Linked DNA regions of Homo sapiens: region 1 is linked to region 2. A link means that fine-mapping ties the variant in region 2 to the expression of a gene that starts in the linked region. Tissue or cell type: tibial artery. Region 2 holds a variant in brackets; the other region holds the start of a gene. All regions are shown on one strand. Distances are from middle to middle.

Region 1 (10,104 bases), 37 kb before region 2:
AAAAAGGCTTTATTAAAATCTGGCTGCCACACTCCAGGGAGACCACGAGCGAAACGGGGGACCTGGAGGCACCGTGGCCCCTCAGCCCGTGCCCCACGCCTGCAGAAGTCCCCACCTTGCACCTGCCCTTTACTTTGGAGTAACCTGGGCCTGCTGTCTCCTCATTTCAGTTCCCAGACCAGAGATGCAGATGTTCATCCATTAATCCACACACCCGTATCCAACAGAGCCCTGGCTGGGTGCCAAGCTCCAGCCCCCGCACCTCAAAGTGGGGCCCAAGCACCCCCAGCTGCTGCCTCAGCCGGGAGTTGCTACAAAAGCAGATTCAGGCCCCACCCCACAACTCACCAAGACAGCACATGCCTTTACCATTGCGTCCGGTCCAGTGGAGGAGACAGACGCTGGCCTATCCCAGCCTGGTGGGGAGTCGGGCTCCAGTGGCTTGAAGGGCCGTGTCAGGGACAGCCTCCCAGAAGAGGGGTTTGTGAGCTGCATCTTAGGGCTCAGCAGCATTTAGGGGGTGAAATGTGATTTCTGGCGCACATACTATGTCCTGGCACGTGAACCAGCGGAGAGGCCCAGGCCTCCCAGCTTACGGTGCCCGGGGCGAACAATTTGAGAGGCTGAGATCAGCTGTGATCAATCTGAGGCTGGCCTCTGGCCTGTTTCGGAAGGCATCACGCACTGCTTCCTTGATGGGCTGATCCCCCTCCCTGGTGTTAGGGAAGCGAGAGGGAGTGGTGCAGGTGGGGGACTCGGGGCCCCTGTCCGGCCTCGCAGGGTTTGTGGTTTGGGGAAGTATGTGTTATGTGCCATGACTTGAAAGTTCAGAACTTCAAGGCTGGTAAAGATGGGTTGGGGGAGGGGTTCCAAGTAGTTAACAAGCTGGGTTAGGAGCCTTGAGTGCAGTGTGAGCCCAAGGCCAGGGGAGGCATGGCCTGGGGACTGGATTCGAGCCTTGTGGTGACCTTGGATTCAGTTGGGGCTGCTGGACGCTCCCTGGGCTGACAGCGCTGGGCAGAGGCTTGGTTTATGCACTGCCACCCAGCCAGGGGACTGGATGCTGGCCCTGAACCTGTACAAAGCAGCATTTCCTTGTCCTGAAACAAGCTGTGAAGCAGCTGATTCCTCCAGAGGGAAAGGGTTGAAGGAGTCACTGCAGGAACCCACAGAGGCGTGGTGGCATCCAGGAGTAGACCTGGCCCCTGCTACAGGGATGACGCTGACCCGGGCAACATAAAACTAGGTCCAGTTGACAGATGGAAAATGCCTTCTCACAGCGCCTGCAGCAAGACTGGCAGGCAATGGGGCCTCTTCATGGACAAGGCGAGAGAGAGTTACCTTCCAGGAGTGACTGAGAAGGAAGCTGGCATGCCGGGTGCGGTGGCTCCCACATGTAATCCCAGTGCTTTGGGAGGCCAAGGCAGGAGGATCACTTGAGCCCAGGAGTTTGAGACCAGCCTGGGCAACATAGTAAGGCCAAGTCTCTATTTTGAAAACAATATTAAAAACATTTCTAAAGGGGGAGAATAAAAGACTGGCAGCAGAACTTTCACTGGTAACAACTAAATCAGAAAACGGGTCTGTCTATGCCTCACTGTAATATGAACAGGCCTCCAGGCCTGTCCCACTTTTGGTGGCCCCAACCTGGCATGGCTTGGGCACAGCCCCTCAAGGCAGTCACAGGGGAGCCACACCCCAGCCTGGGCCCAGGCAAGGGCACTTACAAAGAAAGAGCCTGCAGGCAGGGGCCTTGCGCTGTTGCTGAGTTAGGAAGGGCTGAGGTCGCTTCCTGTCTGGCTGACCCCAGCTCTGGGTGGACAGAAAGCCCCAGAGTGAGAACAGTTAGGGAGCCCCCAGCCCAGCACCCCCACCTCCACCAGGAGCCAGGAGGACGGCCCACCTGGTTCTCAGCAGAGCGGGCAGAGTGGGGAATGGGACCAGCCCTGTGTGGACTGATGGACATTCCTGCGAGGGGGAGGAACGGGCGGGGCGGGGCGGGGCGGGGCTGGGCTGGGCTGGGTTGGGCTGCTCCCCAAGATCCCGTGGATGAGGCTGTGTCCTCTCAGGCTCCGCATCCATCCCCCTGAGCCACAAAGGGAGGCAGTGTGAGCCTCTGGCCCCTTTTATGTGACGGATACCCACCGGGCCCTGTGGTTTCCAACATCCTGTGGGCGGCCTGGTTTCAGGCGCCTTTGTTGCTCCCCACAGCCGAGGCTGCAGCTGCTGGGTCTGCACTCTGCCTGCCTGGAGCCTCGGGCAGCCTTCTCGAGGGTCCATCGTGTCCTCCCAGCACCCAGCAGGTTCCTGGGTGCTCAGAAAGCATTGTTGGGAGGGAGGGAGAGGAAGGAGGGACAAAAGAAGGTAGGCAGGCAGGGGAATGTGCAGGAGCACTTCTGGTCTGCTGCCTCAGTTCCCTCCCCCCCATCACCCACACAGGCTCTGGGGAACCAGCTAACCCTCCTACCTCCCCTGAGCCACAAGCTGCTCTATGAGTCCAGACCCACTACTCTCCTGCTCTACAACCATTGCTGGCTCCCACTTGCTTGCTGAGGAAAATTCAGACCCCAGGACCCCTGTCCCTTGGCTCCCACCTTGTCACCTCCTTCCCTCAGTGGCCCCATGTTGCTTGCTCCCTGTCCCCAGCGGATGTCCCATACTTTATTGTAATTTTTCTCATGTGGCTTGCTCTGGGCCATGTCCTTCCCCCTCACGCCCTTCCCTGTCAGGGCAGGCCACCCACTGAGGTCCACTTCCAGGGGCCGAGTGCGATCTCCTGCCGCGGACGGCAACATTCTGCTGTTTCCTCTTAGGGTACAGGTGACCTGCCTCTGGGGAGCCCTTTGCTCACAGGAAGATGTTATGGGGCACAGCTGAGTCAGAGGTGCCTACTGGGTGACAGAGAGAAAAGAAAGCAAGAGGTGTTAAAAGAGGGAGCACAGTGGCTCACACCTGTTATCTCCGTGTTTTGGGAGGCCAAGGCAGGAGGATCACTTGAGCCCCAGGAGGTAGAGGCTACAGTGAGCCGAGATCACACCACTGCACTCCAGTCTGGGTGACAGAGCAAGATCCTGTCTCAAAAAATAAATAGGCTGGGCGCAGTGGCTCACGCCTGTAATCCCACCCCTTTGGGAAGCCAAGGTGGGTGGATCACCTGAGGTCAGGCGTTCAAGACCAGCCTGGCCAACATGGCAAAGCCCCTCCTCTGCTAAAAATACAAAAATTAGCGGGGCATGGTGGCGCATGCCCGTAATCCCAGCTACTCAGGAGGCTGAGGCAGGAGAATCTCTTGAACCTGGGAGGGGGAGGTTGCAGTGAGCCGAGATCGTGCCATTGCACTCCAGCCTGGGCAACAGAGCGAGACTCTGTCTCAAATAAATAAATTAAATAAATAAATAAGGAGAGCCACAGGGGTGGCCTGGAGGTGGCAGGGCACAGTCCAGTCCTGCTGGGGTCACCCTCTAGTTGCGTGACCTCAGGCTGCTCACTTGATTTCCTGACCACCCGCCTGAAAACAAGCATTTGTTGATGGCGGGGCAGCTTCCTTTGTGGCGGGATGGAGGTGATGTGTCAACAGCCTTGGCACCAGCCACTTTATCCTGAGCATGCCACCTGCAGGGACACTTAATCCCAGAGTCAAGACCCCCAGCATCGCCCCCGCACTTAACTTGCACGGGGGCGGTGACCAAGCCAGGGTGCCCCGGCTCCTCGATGTGTCTGCGAGGCTGTTGGCTGTTGAAATCAGACAGGAAGGAAGAATGAGGTGGAGCCCAGCACAGGAAGAGGTGAGGACCCGGAGCCACAGGGACAGCCGGTGGGCTCGGTGGGGCTGCAGAAGGTCGGGGCTGCACTGCTCTCGGCCCCCACACGGTTGGTTGGTTGGCGTGGTAAGTGCCCTGATCCCTGGTCCTGAGAACTCAGGCTGGCACAGGGATTCCCAGGGCATCTACCACCACGCAGCTGGAGCAGGGCTGAGCCCAGGAGCATGGAGATGGACGCCCCCAGGCCCCCCAGTCTTGCTGTCCCTGGAGCAGCATCGAGGCCCGGGAGGTAAGTTGGGTCCAGGTGACCTCAGTGCAGGGCAGGGGAGGGAGAAGGGATGCTGGCAGGAAGGACAGTGGCCTTAAGGCCTGAGCTACTCTGGGGAGGGGGACTGGGGAGACTCCACGAGACTCCAAGAAGCTGTCTCCTGGGGCAGGACTGGCTCATGCTGTAGAAAAAAGAGATGTGGCCAGGCACGGTGGCTCACGCCTGTAATCCCAACACTTTGGGAGGCCAAGGTGGGCGGATCACTTGAGGTCAGGACTTTGAGACTAGCCTGGCCAACATGGTGAAACCCCATCTCTACTAAAAATAAAAAATAAATTAGCCAGGCATGTTGGCAGACGCCTGTAATCCCACCCAGCTAGTCGGGAGGCTGAGGCAGGAGAACCGCTTGAACCCGGGAGGCGTAGGTTGCAGTGAGCCGAGATCGAGCCACTGCACTCAATCCTGGGTGACAAAGCGAGACTGTCTCCAAAACAAAACAAAACAAAACAAAAAAGAAAAGAAAAAACAGGTAACTAAGAATGGCCCAGGACAGGTCCCAGGGACAAAACCCAGCTCCCCCAGGTACCAGTGATGGCCCAGGAGAAGCAGGAAGCATCTTGAAGGTGCTGCGGGCAGGCAGTGGTGATGCTGAGCCACGGCCTGGGGAATCGGCAGACCTGGGCACCCTTCCTGGCACTGGGACCCCCCATGGGAGGCTACTTCTCTGGGCCTCAGCACCCCACCTGTAGATGGAGGTGACAGCACAGGAGGGGCGAGGTCATGAGGGGCAGGGAGGGTGCAGGCGCCGCCCCCAGGCGAGTGGGCAGCCCCAGGGCCTCTCCTGCCCACAGCCTTGGGTGAGACAAGGGTCGAGAGAGACGGCAACCGCAGAGGCCTTCTCGGAAGAAGTGCCACTGCCCTGGGCCAGCCTGGGTGTTGGCTGCAGGGTCTTCCCCTATGGCCAGGCTCCAGAGGCCCTGGTGTTTTTCTGGACCCCTCCCTGGAGGTGACCCTGAGCCTGGGGCTCACTGTTGGCCATCACAGGCTGCAGGCTGCACCCCTCTTCTTCTGTCCCAGGGTGCTGGGCTCCCCAGGGCTGGGCCTCTCCACCCCTTGGACTCCAGGGGTCCATGCAGTGAGCAGGGTAGGGCCCTGAGGTGCAGGTGCCACTTCCTTCTTCCTTCGGGAAGGCTTTTGAGCTCAAGTGATGATGCTGGGGCCACCTCGAGAGAACCGAGTCCTGAATTCCAAGGCCCTGGGAGGGGGCAGGGGCAGGATGTGGGAAGAGAGGAGCATCCAAGCAGCCGTGGTGGGAGATACTGGCAGCCCAGGTAGGCAGCCAGCACTGGGAAGTCCCACCCGGGCGCCAAGTGGCAGGGAAGGACCCAGCAGGTCCCGGCAAGGACTGAGGCACAGATCAGGTGGGCGGGTGATGGGCAGAGGCGGCTAGTCCGTCGGGACTGAGGCTTCTCAGGAATGAGGCAGCAGGCCACTTGCTGAGCCTGAGGAACTGGGCTTGAGCCCACACCACACCAGGAAGGCCTCAGGTTCACCTTCGCTCACAGACAAAGCTCTAGGGGTGAAACCTGGTGCTACCTGGGAGGCTCCCGGGGAGGAGGCAGCAGTGGCACCTACTCGTCCCTCTGGCCTCGCCCTGCTCGCAGCAGCTCAAACCAGCTGTGGAGCGACCTCTGGCCTTCAGATCCCCCAAAGCAACCCGAGTCCCACCTGTCCTCAGTCTCTCTGTCTTTCAGCTGCGCTCACAGGGGCCGCCTGACCATCCATAGTGGCGTCTGCGGCCTCGCGACCTCACTCGGCTGAGAGGTCTGTGGAAGGCTCCAGCCTGCCAGGGGGATGTTAGGGCTGCGTGCAGGGCCTGGCAGCGGTGGCAGCCAGGTAACCAGCCCCCATCAGCCTTTGGGGCTGGTCCTGGGAGGTGCTGGCAATGGCAGGGGGGTTGGTTCACCTGCACCCCCTCCTCTGTCCTTCTTAGGGACAGTGTCCAGGATGAAAGCCACGTTTCGTCTGAATGGGGCCTGAGCAGGGATGCCAGATCAGATACAGGACACTTGGTCAAATGTGAATTTCAAATAATCCATTTCTTTGGTATGTCTCCAGTATGACATAAGCTATGCTTATACTAAAAATTATATGTCGTTTATCTGAAATTTAATTATCTGTGGATATCTCATATTTTATCATTATTTTTTGAGACAGTCTCGCTCTGTCACCCAGGCTGGAGTGCAGTGGCGTGATCTTGGCTCACTGCAGCCTCCACCTCCTGAGTTCAGGCGATTCTCCTGCCTCAGCCTCCAGAGTAGCTGGGACTACAGACATCCACCACCACGCCCAGCTAATGTTTGTATTTTTCGTAGAGATGGGGTTTCGCCATGTTGGTCAGGCTGGTCTTGAACTCCTGACCTCAAGGTGATCTGCCCACCTCAGCCTCCCAAAGTGCTAGGATTACAGGCATGAGCCACTGTGCCCAGGTTTGTCTTGTATTTTAATTTGCTGAATCTGGCAACCCTGGACCCAAGGTCATGGGGCCACAAAGATGGGTGTCTGATCAGGAGGGAGTGCTGACTCCCAATACTGAGAGACTAATGAGGCCACAGAGGCAGGGGTGCTTGCCAGCCCCCTACACCCCGTCCCCGCCTTCCCAGGCGCTTGTGAGTCCTGCCTCGCCCCAACCCCTCACTCCTGCCAGCACTGTCCCTCCCTCATTCCTCTCCCAGCCCCGCTCGGGTCCCGTGGTTCTCAACTCTGGTTAGAACCACCGGAGGAGCTTAAACTAGATCCACGTGGGGGCCCTTGCCAGACCAATCAAATCTCTGGGTGGTCAGGCCGAGCGTTGGTTATTTAAAAGCCGTGCTCCACAAGGCCGGGCGCAGTGGTTCACACCTGTAATCCCAGCACTTTTGGAGGTCAGGAGTTCAAGACCAGCCTGGCCAACATGGTGAAACCCTGTCTCTACAAAAATACAAATGGTATTGATGGTGGGTGCCTATAATCCCAGTTACTGAGGACCCTGAGGCGGGAGAATCACTTGAACCCAGGAGGCAGAGGTTGCAGTGAGACGAGATAGTGCCACGACACTCCAGCCTAGGCAACAGAGTGAGACTCTATCTCAAAAAAAAAAAAAAAAAAAAAAAAAAAAAAAAAGATAAAATGGTTACAATGGGCCAAGCATGGTGGTCCTCACCTGTACCTGTAATCCCAGCTACTTGGGAGGCTGAGGTGGGAGAATCACTTGAGCCCAGGAGGTCGAGGCTGCAGTGAGCCAAGATCGTACCACTGCACTCCAGCCTGGGCAACAAAGCAGGACCCTGTCTTTATTTTTTAGCGACAAAGCAAGACCCTGCCTCTATTTTTTAAGGAAAATTATTTTTAAAATGGTTAAAATGGTAAATTTTGTGTTATGTGTATTTTACCAAAATTTTAAATCAATCAATCAATAAGACCCCAAATGATGCCCTACCAGAGCTGAGACTTCTTCCACGCAGTCCTCTCATCCTCCTGGCCACTCCCGCCCCCAGCAGCAGGGCTGGTCACCTGGTGGGTGCACATGGACATCCAACAACAGGAGGCTGTGTCCACCTGGGCCACACCCTAATGTCACACAGTGAAGGACAGAGGACCCCGTATCCTGGCCTCTGGCATATCAGGCAGACAGTAGCACTGCTTCATTTGGGCTGACATACCTTTGAATGTTTAGATAATTGCTAGCTTTTGTGTGTGTGTGTGAGACAGGGTCTTGCTCTATCACTCAGGCTGGAGTGGAGTAGTGAGATCTCAGCTAACTGCAGCCTTGACGGCGGGAGTTAAGCGATCCTCCCACCTCAGCTTCCTTGAGTAGCTGGGATTACAGGCATGCGCCACCGTGCTCAGCTAATTTTTTTTTTTTTGTACTTTTTATAGAGACAGGGTTTTGCCCATGTTGCTCAGGCTGGTCTCAAACTCCCGGGCTCAAGCAATCCACCCACCTTGGCCTCCTAAAGTGCTGGGATTACAGGGGTGAGCCATGGTGCCCAGCCTCCATCCCTCCTTTTGATGTTTTTTAATTTCTCTCAGTAATGTTTTATAGTTTTCAGTATAGAGGTCTTGCAAATTTTGCTAGATTTATTCCTAGATATTTGATTTTTTTTTTTTTTTTTTTTTGAGATAGAGTCTTGCTCTATCGCCCAGGCTAGAGTGCAGTGGCACCATCTCGGCTCACTGCAACCTCCACCTCCTGGGTTCAAGCAATTCCCTGCCTCAGCCTCCTGAGTAGCTGGGATTACGGTCACCCACCACCATGCCCAGCTAATTTTTGTATTTTTAGTAGAGACGGGGTTTCACCATGTTGGCCAGACTGGTCTCGAACCCCTGACCTCAGATGATCTGCCTGCCTTGGCCTCCCAAAGTGCTAGGATTACAGGTGTGAGTCACCGCGCCTGGCCCACATATTTCTTTAGGATAAATTCCCAGAAGTGGAATTTCTAGGACAAAAGATATTTAATGACAACAGATAATGGTTATTATAATCCAGAATTGTTATACTAATTTATACTTCCACCCACTATGAATTAAGATTCCCACTACAGGCCTGGCACAGTGGCTCATGCCAATAATTCCAGCACTTTGGGAGGCCAAGGTGGGAAGATTGCTTGACCCCAGAAGTTGGAGACCAGCCTAGGCAACATGGCAAGACCCTGTCTCTACAAAAAATACAAAAATTAGCTGGATGTGGTAGCATGCGCCTGTAGTCCCAGCTACTTTGGAGGATCACTTGAGCCCAGGGAAGTTGAGGCTGCAGTGAACCCTGATCATGCCACTGCACTCCAGCCTGGGTGACACAGTGAGATCCTGTCTCAAAAAAAAAAAAAATTTCCCACTACCTCCATGTTCTCACCAATGCAGTCTGTTATGTTATAATATTCACCAATGAGACGTATGAAAAATGATAGTTTATTCTTTTGCTTTTTTCTTGATCCTTAGTGACACTGAGCATCTTTTCAATATCTTGGTCATTTATACTTCTATGAATTATCTGTGTCCTTTTTTCTATTTCATTTGGGGTTCATAATTCTGTTTGGTTACTTATTATTGATTTATAAGTTCTTTATATATTAAGGATATTCATATTTTTCCATGTATGTTGCAAATGTTGACTCCTGGCTTATAGTTTTTCTTTCAACTTTATGGCATCTATTATTACTTATAAATATTTTAATTATTATTATTATTTTTTGAGATGGAGTCTCGCTCTGTCACCCAGGCTGGAGTGCAGTGGCGCCATCTTGGCTCACTGCAACCTCTGCCTCCCGGGTTCAAGCGATTCTCCTGCCTCAGCCTCCCGAGTAGCCGGGACTACAGGCACGTGCCACCACGCCCAGCTAATTTTTGTATTTTTAGTAGAGATGGGGTTTCACCATGTTGGCCAGGCTGGTCTTGATCTCTTGACCTTGTGATCCACCCGCCTCAGCCTCCCAAAGTGCTGGGATTACAGGCGTGAGCCACCACGCCTGGCAAATATTTTAATTATTTAATATCAAACTAAATATTTAATTATTTAATATTTTAATTCAATTAAGACAAATTTACTAGTCTCCCTCTTCATGAATTCTGCTTTTTTTTTTTTTTTTTAAAGCCAGGGTCTTGCTCTGTCACCCAAGCTGGATTGCAGTGGCACAATCATAGCTCACTGCAGCCTCAGCCTCCTGAGCTCAAGGGGTCCTCCTACCTCAGCCTCCCCATAGCTAGTTCCACAGGTGCCCACCACCAGCCCCATCTATTTTTTTTTTTTTGTAGAGATGGTGTGTCACTATGTTGCCCAGGCTGACACTTCTGAGTTTTACGTCTCACTGTAAAAAACCTTTACCTAAATAATATTTTAAAATATTATCTCATATTTTCTTATTGTGCTTTTATGGTTTTGTGTTTACAACTTTTAACTCCTTAATTGACCTGAAAATAAATTTTGTGTTTAATGTGAATTACAGCTGGAAAATATTTTTCATAGGCTGGTCAATTGCCCCAATGCCATTTTCACTGATTTGAAATGCTATTTTTGTCATGTTACCAAACTCCTTAATG
Region 2 (10,796 bases):
CCCGTGCACCCAAAGGGGTCATACTCTGTGTCTAGTTTACAGGAGAACGCCATCGGGGATGACGGAGCGTGTGCGGTGGCCCGTGCACTGAAGGTCAACACAGCCCTCACTGCTCTCTAGTAAGTCCTAGATGTGCGCAGCAGTCAGGAAACCGGTCCCTTCGCCATCCTTTCACGTTAGAGGTCTTTTTTTTTTTTTTTTTCCTCGAGACAAGAGTCTTGCTCTGCCACCCAGGCTGGAGTGCAGTGACATAATCTCAGCTAACTGTAACCTCCACCTCCTGGGTTCAAGTGATTCTCAAGCCTCAGCCTCCCATACAGTAGTTGGGATAACAGGCGTGCACCACCACACCCAGCCTAATTTTTGTATTTTTAGTAGAGACGGGGTTTCACCATATTGGCCAGGCTGGTCTCAAACTCCTGACTTCAGGTGATCTGCCCACCTCAGCCTCCCAAAGTGCTGGGATTACAGGTGTGAGCCACCACACCTGGCCTGGACGTTATTTTTGTTTACAAGTCAAGGAAGGTGTGTTTGATTTTCCTAATATAGGAAATATGATATTAGCAGTTGGGGGCTCAAACACCTAGAGAGTAGTAATGAGGAGGTACAGGGAGCATTCTCCCCGAGCCCTTCCAGGGACAGCCTCTATTTCTCATCTCCTTAGCATCCAGATCTCTGTCTTAGGCAACAGACAGTGTAGGTAGGAGATGGAGTGCCTAGACACAGCGCTGGCCAACCATTCTCAGTGCTGTTTCTCCACTTTCCATCCTGAGTCAAGGGGTGGTGAAAGGGAACGGAGTATGCGGAGGGAGGTGGGCCCAGCCGGCTCACACTGACGGCACCCTCTCCGCCCCAGTCTCCAGGTGGCCTCAATTGGTGCTTCAGGCGCCCAGGTGCTAGGGGAAGCCTTGGCTGTGAACAGAACCTTGGAGATTCTCGAGTAAGTATTCCAGTCTCCATCTATGGTCTTTAGCCCAAAGAAATCAATGAATTCTCAATGAATAGATATGGGGACAAAGTTTACAGACAACTCACAAATCATCCTGGTGATCTTCATTTCAGTGCAAGTATACCAGTTTCCCAGCCCCACTTCATGCCTTTCCCTGGGAGTCGCTATCATTTGCCCTCCTCTCCGGGTTGGCCTTGCCAGGCTGAACACGTCTAGAGGCCTGGTTTATGGGTCCCAGGGGGGCTGATCTTGTTCTCTGGGCAGATCCAAAGTCCTGGGGTGAGGTTACAGCTCTGAGGCTCAGGCATGTCCTCAGAATTCCTGCCCTTGCTGGGAGCACTGGGGACCTGCCCAGATGGAGGGCTGCCTCTCCTGTCTCAGCCCCGCTTTTCTGTTTGAAATGGAAGAGGAGGAAGGCTCCAACAACCCTCCTGGCTAGGCCAGCCATGCCCCTGTGTGCCCTGCTTCCCAGAGCCAGCTCTGCCCTGTTGCCCTGGAGTGAGGAAGGCACAGCCCTGGCCTCCTGTGACTGCTGAAGTCCTTGTTTCCTCTACCAAGCAGCCCCAAGCCCACCCGCAGAGGGGTCAGTATCACCTCTCAGCCTGTACCCATGCCTTAGGCTTCCTGTCTTTCCCAACAGCTTAAGAGGAAATGCCATTGGGGTGGCTGGAGCCAAAGCCCTGGCAAATGCTCTGAAGGTAAACTCAAGTCTCCGGAGACTCAAGTAAGTGGCTGGAGGGACCTACCTGCATCCTGGAGCAGCAGAGTTCTCTGCTGGGTCCTCCCTGATGGAATAAAATGCTCCTGATTTCTTCTGTAGCTATTTCCTTCTGAATATAAACAATCAGACTTATTATAGTCCACATTCCACTGCAGCTGGGTTTGTTGAGTGTGCTTAGCTTCAGTCAGAAGTCACTCACATCTTGCATTTATGGCCTTACATCCTCCAGCGCACTTGCGTGGGACAATCTGGCCACTCGTAGACACCTGTCTCCAGGGTCAACTCCCACCTGGAGTTGCCATGGCACCTGTGGACACATCTGCCTGGGTTACTGCCCCCAGACAATGCACTGTTGCTTCCCCGGGTGTTTTCCTTCTGCCCTGATGGCTCACCGTGTGTCTCCATCTCTTTTCCACTTAGTCTTCAAGAGAATTCTCTGGGGATGGACGGGGCGATATGCATTGCCACAGCACTGTCTGGAAACCACAGGCTCCAGCATATCAAGTGAGTGCACCTGCCCTTCCTGCTCACCCTTAGAACTGCTTCCAGGTGGCGCACTGCCTTTTGCCCAGTTCTGAGAGCCAGCTGACCCCCAGACGCTTCAGCAGGCCTATAGGGAAACCTGGTCTAAGGGGAGGTACCCTGAGCCTTGTCCATGTAGCGAGGGGATCCTAGAAGCACAAAGGCTTTGCATGGGGTCCTGCATTTTCTATTGTATGGCCTGCTCTACTAAAGAGAACCTGCAGGCTTTGAGCCCTGCCTTAACCCTACTCTTCTAGTCTCCAGGGAAACCACATTGGGGACTCCGGGGCCAGGATGATCTCAGAGGCCATCAAGACAAATGCTCCCACGTGCACTGTTGAAATGTGATCCTGGTGGACGGATCAGGAGAATGGGCAGATGCTCAGCTGGAAGCTTTTGAACAGAAAGGCCGACTTCTGGGGGGCCTGTCTGGGAGCTGGGAACGCTGCTTGCTCAGCACGAGAGCCGGGCTCTGCAGGGAGGAAGGAGAGGTGCTGCCGGAGGAGGTCGTGAGCTCCTCTTCTGCTGCAGGAGTGGTCCAGGCAGGGGGTGACGGGTACTCTGTTATGGCACAGAGAAGGGAGGGGCCACCCCCAAGGGACTAGGGGCCAAAGGCCTGAAAGCTGAGCAGTACAGGAGGCTGGTTCCAGCTTTACACCCTGAGGACTTCATGTGTCCCCAACCTTTAAAAATGTTTATTACTGCCCCTTTCCACTCACCTGGTTAAAAATCATCCCATGCTCTGAGATGAGCTGCCACCTCAAGCCCGTGAGGAGCATCCGTTTGGTAGGGGTAACAGAGGGGACCCTTCTTTATCTTCTCAAGAAGAAGATTTCAGGGTATCATCCTTACAGACATGAAAAAGCTATGGGAAAATTGTGAAGATAAATGAAAGTTTTAATTCTAGGATTCTGGAAACAGAGACAGTAAGAGTTCTCCAAGGATTTTGCCTTTTTTGTTTGTTTTTGAGATGGAGTCTCGCTCTTGTCGCCCAGGCTGGAGTGCAGTGGCACGATCTCAGCTCCCTGCAACCTCCGCCTCCCGGGTTCATGTGATTCTCCTGCCTCAGCCTCCCCAGTAGCTGGGAATACAGGCACCCGCCACCATGCCCGGCTAATTTTTGTAGTTTTAGTAGAGACGGGGTTTCATCATGTTGGCCAGGCTGGTCTCGAACTCCTGACCTCAGGTGATCCATCAGCCTGGGCCTCCCAAAGTACTGGGATTACAGGCATGAGCCACCACACCTGGCCCCATTTTTTATTTATTACAAAATCAAAGACATGGGTGATGCCTGGCACATGTTGTCTGGAGTCTGGCACACTGGTTATCAATAGCACATTCAGTGTATTCAGTGATGTCATTCTTTATTTATTTTTGAGACAGAATCTGTCACCCAGGCTGGAGTGCAGTGGCATGATCTCAGCTCACTGTAGGCTCTACCTCATGGGTTCCAGTGATTCTCCTGCCTCGGCCTCCCAAGTAGTTGGGTCTACAGGCACGCACCACCACACCCAGCTAATTTTTGTATTTTTAGTAGAGATGGGGTTTCACCATGTTGATCAGGCTGGTCTTTAACTCCTGACCTCAAGTGATCCACCCACCTCAGCCTCCCAAAGTGCTGGGATTACAGGTGTGAGCCACTGCACCTGGCAGTGATGTCATTCCTTACTAGGCTTCCAAAGCCACTGCTGTGGCCACAGCTTCCATGGAGACAGGCAAGCTGAGCCTCTATGTGGCACCAATTCCTGCAGCTGTTTGTGTTGGAGGGAAAAAAATCCAAATGGACATCAACAGCTTTCATCAACTAAATAACCACAGAAAATATTTATGAAGACTATAAAGCAATGATTACTTTTGAATTGGAAAGGAATCACTATTATTTGAAATGTTTCTTCAAAAGTGAGCATCCGGACAGGAACCATCATGGATGCTGAGGCCATGGATGAAGGCCTACTCGGGAAGATGATATCCTTGCAGTCTCAAAACGGCACCCCACAAAGGTGATATCCTAATTTACAAAGGGAAAAAGGTACCTTAATCTGAAATCTGGCAAATGCAGCCTCAACAGAAGTGACAGAATTGAACATCGCCAATAATGGGACACACAGACATCACATGCCCCCAGTCTGATGCACCACGGAGTCGTCTCTGATGTATTCTTGTCAAAAAATGTTTGCCTGATTCTAATCATGAAAGAACAATTAGAAAAAATCCAAATTGACAGATATTCTGCAGAATAAATGGCCTGACCTCATCAAAAACATCAATGTCATGAAAAACACAAAACATTGCAGATAGCGTGAAATTAAAGATTACAGAGATATAA[T/C]TTAATGCAAGATCTCTGACTGGATCCTAGACTGCAGGAAAAAGTCTGCTATAAAGAACATTTGGATCACTTGTAGTAGCTGGGAAATAAAACAAAACATTATTTGTAAAAGGGGGGAAATCTGAACATGGGTCTTGCAGTATTTATGACAGTTTTTGCGGGGCAGAGATTTCTAGATTGACAGCTGTTTTAGTACTTTCAAGGTGATGCTCTGTCTGCTGGTTTGCATTGTTTCTGTCTGAGTTAAGAGACTGGCAGAACACAGAGTTGCAGTAGCCAAACACTGGAGAAAGCTGGGCCCTACAGAAACCTAACGCTGAAGAAACCTCAGGAGCCAAACTGGTGGAGAAAACAAAGAGTCCTCCCTCTCTCCCTTTTCAAATAATGATCATACATCTTCAAGCTGTCTGAAATGGTTAAGGAGTTCAGTCTGTCGTCAGGCACACACCAGAGCCAGCTAGCCCACACAGACCCCATCAGAGCAAAACAGACAAGAGAATTTAATTCATATCCACATAGAAAGGACTTCTAGGTAGGAGGTAGACCCTTTAGCTCCCTTCCAATTAAAGGAGTCCCCAATTCTGGCACCTGAGAGTCCCCTGGGTCTAACAGCTATGATATTTATGTAGTGTGTTGCTTACCTAAATGAATACAATTTCCTTCCAGACACGTGACACTGATATTAAAGTGCTAATGAGAGGGATCTATTTCTTCTTGTACGCTAAAAGAGAAACAGCAGTTCAGATTTCCCATCAGAAGTCCGAGGACTTTGTTCTTGATAACTACTACCAATAAAAATTGAGTATTTGAAAAATTCCTTTGTATTTTCCATCCATACACATTTTTTTTTAAAGCATTTTAGGAAGTCCTCTAATTATATAGTAAAAATTGTCAGCAATGGCCTGCTAGTTTTCTATTTGACCTAATCACAACCATCCTCGTTAGGTCCTGAGGTCTGCTCTGCTGCTTGGCCAAAACCAAATGGTGCCAGGTCACAAAGCACTTGCACATGTGAATCCTGCATCCATTCTACAATGGGTCACTATTGACTGAAATACTTTAATAAAAATGATAGAGCACATAAAGCTTGCTGTTGACAGAAACTTCCGTGCTCAAGCAAGGCAGTGCTATACATGGTGAGACCTTGCACAAAGTCAGTTAACTAACAGATGATCTAGAAGCAGGTGACACAATGAAATACCCTTTGGAGCTGTTGCCTATGTCTGTGGATAGGCTCTTTGTAGCTAGGTTAGGCTTCTGTGTTAAAGTGTGTTAGAAGAAAGCATCACATAAGGAAAATAGAACTCTATTCGTATGTTTTTTCAAAACAGAAGTCAAGTCACATTCAGGCAAACCAAATCTGTAACATTCAAGAAGATGCAGTGACTCTTCCGCATCTTAGAGCCACGGTGTCTGAGGTGGCTGGCATGGCTCCAACACGCTGGCTTCCCTGTCAGTGGATCATTTACAATATGGTGCATTTCAAATTACTGGTGAATTCACTGAATACTGGCTGTTTTTTTTTTTTTAGGGGTAATCTTATACATAAAATTTAGGAAAAGAAAGAGAAAAAAGCAAAAATGACAGAAATAACTCAAAAGTTCCTAAAATTTATGTGTATCTTTTCGTACCTGTGAACTCCTGAATAAGTATTTATATCTGACAGGTACAAATACAATAATTATATTTTTAAGTAAAACCTATTTAATAATATGAAGTATGGTGTTAAATACATGTATTAAAAGATAAGTAACTTCAGAAGTCTTCTGACTTTTTAATTGTAAAATAAGTGAAAACTGTTTTGTGCTTTTTTATTTACTGTATGCTTTTTTTTTTTTTTTTTTTTTTGAGATGGAGTCTCACTCTGCTGCCCAGGCTGGAGTGCAGTGGCGCCATCTCGGCTCACTGCAACCTCCGCCTCCTAGGTTCAAGCGATTCTCCTGCCTCAGCCTCCCCAGTAGCTGGGGTTACAGGCATGCGCTACCACGCCCGGCTAATTTTTGTATTTTTAGTAGAGGTGGGGTTTCGCCATGTTGGCCAGGCTGGTCTCAAACCCCTGACCTCAGGTGATCTACCCACCTCAGCCTCTCAAAGTGCTAGGATTACAGGCATGAGCCACCACGCCTGACCTACTGTACGCTTTTTACAAGCAGCGTGCTTTTCTTTTTCTTTTTTTTAAAGACAGGGTCTCACTCTGTCACCCAGGCTGGAGTGCAGTGGCATGATCACGGCTCATTGCAGCCTCAACTTCCTGGTCTCAAGTGATTCTCCTGCCTCAGCCTCCTGAATAGCTGAGACCACAGGCATGCCCCTCCACACCTGGCTAATTTTTTAATTTTTTGTAGAGATGGAGTCTCACTTAGTTGTCCAGGCTAGTCTAAAACTCCTGGGCTCAAGTGATCCTCCCACCTTGGCCTCCTGAGTAGCTGGACCCAAGGGCGCTTGCCACCACTCCCAGCTAAGTACTTTTCATATTAAAAAAAAAGAAGAAGAAAAAAGAAAAAAACCAACTCCACTTCTAATTTCACAACAGAAAAATTCTTCTAGTGCTATTACTCTACTTAATTCAATCCTGTGTTGTTGTTTTTTTAAATCAGAAACATGAATCTGTACCAACACTTTTTCTTAATTGGCTCCTTCCCCTACAGAAACACTTAGGTAGCGAGCTGCAGGAAACCTGCCTTTGTCCCTGTGTTGTGCACTATGTCTTGCCACACTTTAGACAAAACAAAGCTCCTTTAGAGAAACCCTGGCTGGAGGGAAGAAAAGTGTCCCGGCTGTCATTGCCATGGGAGTCTGGAGTTTCTGAGAGGGCAGCCCAGGTCACCAGAGTTTCCAGATTTAGTACCAACCGTGGAAACATGAAGGTGGCTGTAATCCAAGGTGAACTGGACTGCCAGAGGAATGTCAGCTTCGGACAGAAAATGGAGGATTCCTCATCTGGAGCCTGTCTCTATTGCCTGATTTTCAAAGAAACCAAGTTTTCATTTAACTTTAGCTAACCTTCTTTCAGAAAAGTTTAGTTATTAAAATACATTTAATGCTTGGTATTGTGAACATGCAGACGAAAGAAAATAAGATTACAAAATGAAATAAGAGCTAGAATTAAAAGCCGATGTATAGGAAATGTTCTCAACTGTGCAAGTGATTAACAGCCAGATGTTCCCCTACGATTCCAAACATGAGTCCCCAGTGCCAAGTTCCAGCCCCAACTCTGCTGGAGTCTCAGAGAAAATGTATAGTAACAAAAGCAGCCAAGACTTGTGTGGCGTCAGCTCTTATTTCTTCTTGAGTTTTTGTCCCGTGGATGTGAATCACTAAGAACACATGCATTCCTCAAGTTTTAGAAGATAAATAAGGTGGAAAAAAATAAATCTTAGGGATTTGCTTCAATTCTTATTTAAGCTTCATGGAATGCAAACATAGGAGGCTAAAGCAGAAATAAGTATTGCTTCAGTGATCATGAGTCCAGCCAGCTTAGTAAACAAAACAGGGGTTACCTTCCTAACCTTCTAAGTTCCCATTTACCTACAAGTCTGAGGGTTTTAATCTGCCAGGGTCCCTTGGCAAAAGGGTCAGAAGTCATTGTCACTCTCATCCAGGGGTTCAGATTTCCGGACCCTTCGATTGGGCTTGGTTGGTGAGAGAGAAATGCTCTCGTCTTCCAAATCGTCATCCTCGTCATCATCATCTTCCATGTCAATTTCACTCTCCTCCGAGTCCTCCTATAGGAAAAAAATGGCAGATGCAACGGGGGATCCTGCCTCATTCCTGACATCTTGTCCTAAGACTCTCTGCCTCCCTTTCTATAGCAGCATCCCTGTGTGAAGGAAGAGGCTGGCAGAGTGGCAAGCAGGCTGTGGGAGGGCATACAGATGGGACTGAGGCTATGTACTGCCAGCTGGAATTTATCATCCAACCAGAATCCTCCAAACTGCAGGTGCATCTGGGTGTGGTGCTGCAGGGGCTGGCTTTCCCGCAGCGTCTAAGAAGCACTCTGCATCTGCGCTGAGGGCCACTGGACCTAGAGACTCCCCCTACAGATGGCAAGAAGGACAGGGGCTTGGAGAGAGGGAAGGGAGGCCTGTTTTGGCTTTTTGTAGATTGTGGATGGAAAGCAACATAGACATTGGTATAAGGAGCAAAGTGAATCCCAGCTACTCCGGAGACTGAGGCAGAAGAATCGCTTGAACCTGGGAGGCAGAGGTGCAGTGAGCCGAGATTGCACCACTGCACTCCAAAGCAAGACTCCATCTCAAAAAAAAAAGAAAAAAAAGAAAAAAAGGGAGCAAAGTGAAAGACACACCCTCTCTCTCCTCATCGGATCCAGGGCTCCAGGGTGACCAACTCAGCCCAGCTTTAAAACGGCAGTTCCTGCGTCCCATGTAAACCAGGATGGCTGGTCGTTCTATCTAGATCATTCCTGTCGGTGCACACTCATGCTGTAATTTCCTTCTTGAAAAAAAACCCCAAAGGTAATCCCACCTTCCTCTCCAGCTGCTCTGCCCTGTCTCTCTCCCCTCACACAAAGCTCCTGAGCGAGTCGTTGAACTCACTGTCCACACCTGTGCCCCTCACGACTGCTTCAGTTCCCCCGGGCTCTCACCTACTGACCCCAGCACTGCTCCTGTCAAGAAGGAAACATTCAACGGACTGGGATCGATTCTCAGGCCTCATCCTGCTTGAGCTGTGGAATCACCCCTTCATCCTTAAAACCCATCTTCTCCATCCCCCAGGGCCCCTTCTCTAGTCCAGGTCCCCCTTCCTCACTGCTGACGCCCCTCAGCCTCCTCTGCCTGCCCCTTCCTCCCGGACCTCTGCAGGGCAGATGCAGCTCAGGACCTTGGGTCGCCTCTCTTCTCATTCTACTTGCTCTCCCTAGGCAGTCACATCTATCCTTGTGGCTTAGATACCAACCAAATAAGGGTGGCTCCCAAAATTCAATCTCTAGCCCAGACGTGGCCCTTGAACTCCAGACTTAAATTCCACCTGGCTACTCAACCCTAGCATGTGGCTGTCACATTCAGAATGTCCAAAATCAAACTTTCGATCTGCCTTCCAAGCCCCTTTGTCAAGTCGGCCCCATCTCAGAAAATGAAACTCTGCTTTCTGCTGATTAGACCAAGCCCAGGCACCCTCATTTTTCTCTTTCTCTAACAGCCTATGTCCAATCAATTCACAAAACCTGATGGTTCTTAGAGAGACCCAGGACCTGACCATTTCTCAACACCTCTGCTGCCACACCTTCGGCCAAGCACCGTCACCTCTGACCTCCACGGGTGCAGGCGCCTCCTAACTGGCTTCTCTCAAACAGGGATCATCAGCTCTTGACCCTTCTGGGCTCATGATTCTTCAGGGCCTTCCCCTCACACTCAGAGAAAACAGAGTCTTCATCTCACCCTGCAAAGCTCTGCATGGCCCCTGCTGCCTCTCGCACTCACCCACAATCACACCAGCTGCCTCTGCTCCTCGATGCGAGGAGTGCATTCCACATGCCCAGGTGCCGCCAACCCATGCGCTCGCTCCCTCCACTCAGGCCCTGCTCAAACACCACCACGTCAGGGGCCTTCACTGACCTCGCAGAAGACGCCACCCCCTCCTTGTTCCCTGTCACTCCCTGTCCCCTGAAGCTGTTATTCCTCCTGTTAACACCATGAGCCCTGATCCGACAATCCATCATTATTGCTGGGGTGTGAGCCATGAAGCAGGGGCTTGCCTCTGCCCCTGCTGCGTTCCCCATAATCCACGACAGCACTGGCATGTGGCAGGCACTCAACAGACACGTGTTGGATGCCTGAACACGTAAAGCATGGAACCCTGTGCCTGGAGGGCGGCATGGACACAGCCTCCTTGAAATAAACAAGTGACCACCAGGCATAAAGCTCAGCTGCGACTAATGCATTCGCTCTGAGGAGAGAGAAGGCAAACCCTGGAGAAGAGGCAGGCGGTGCTGCCTCAGCATTGCCAGCACCCACGCCACACTCCCTCTGCTTCTGTCTTGGGTGGGCAAGACGGAGAGACGCTGTATACCATCCACACCCGAGCTTGTTAGGAAAATTATTTTCCAGTTGCTCTCTCTGCTTCTCTACAGACTGTGCCCTGTAAATTCAGGGCACATGGAGGCAGCCTGGGGTCAGTCTCTGTTGAGTCGCCCTTTGCTGTGTGGGCCGAGCAGCACTGCCAGGGACGCAACAAAGAACGTAGGCTTGAGCAATGGGCGGCAGAGCCCTGATGACTGGACCTCACTGAGGACCCCTAGAATCCCCTTTTGCTTAAGT

Evidence for each region. PIP is the estimated chance that this variant, and not a neighbour inherited with it, causes the effect.
Region 1: NLRC3 starts here. The variant in region 2 is fine-mapped to the expression of NLRC3 in tibial artery (GTEx, PIP above 0.99). The same link has a PIP of 0.9 or more in amygdala, anterior cingulate cortex, aorta, atrial appendage, caudate and cerebellar hemisphere.

The regions. Positions count from the first base shown.
Region 1 is chr16:3,571,095-3,581,198 of GRCh38, reverse strand. NLRC3 (NLR family CARD domain containing 3) reads left to right here and starts at 3,796. Exons shown (of 20, transcript NM_178844.4): 1 at 3,796-4,050. It overlaps LOC105371060 (a long non-coding RNA gene), which reads right to left and starts at 3,696. Exons shown (of 2, transcript XR_001752061.3): 1 at 2,146-3,696; 2 at 1-1,812. SLX4 (SLX4 structure-specific endonuclease subunit) reads left to right here. Exons shown (of 15, transcript NM_032444.4): 15 at 1-18. LOC124903632 (a long non-coding RNA gene) reads right to left here. Exons shown (of 2, transcript XR_007064955.1): 2 at 8,961-10,104. RefSeq lists enhancers at 1-551, 2,453-2,632, 2,663-2,712 and a silencer at 1,913-2,012.
Region 2 is chr16:3,533,569-3,544,364 of GRCh38, reverse strand. CLUAP1 (clusterin associated protein 1) reads right to left here. Exons shown (of 12, transcript NM_015041.3): 12 at 5,317-8,243. The coding sequence ends at 8,094. NLRC3 (NLR family CARD domain containing 3) reads left to right here. Exons shown (of 20, transcript NM_178844.4): 16 at 36-119; 17 at 857-940; 18 at 1,590-1,673; 19 at 2,091-2,174; 20 at 2,450-5,332. The coding sequence ends at 2,540. It overlaps LOC101929732 (a long non-coding RNA gene), which reads right to left and starts at 2,456. Exons shown (of 4, transcript XR_007064953.1): 1 at 2,063-2,456; 2 at 1-1,977. The variant T/C (reference allele first, on the strand shown) is at 4,519.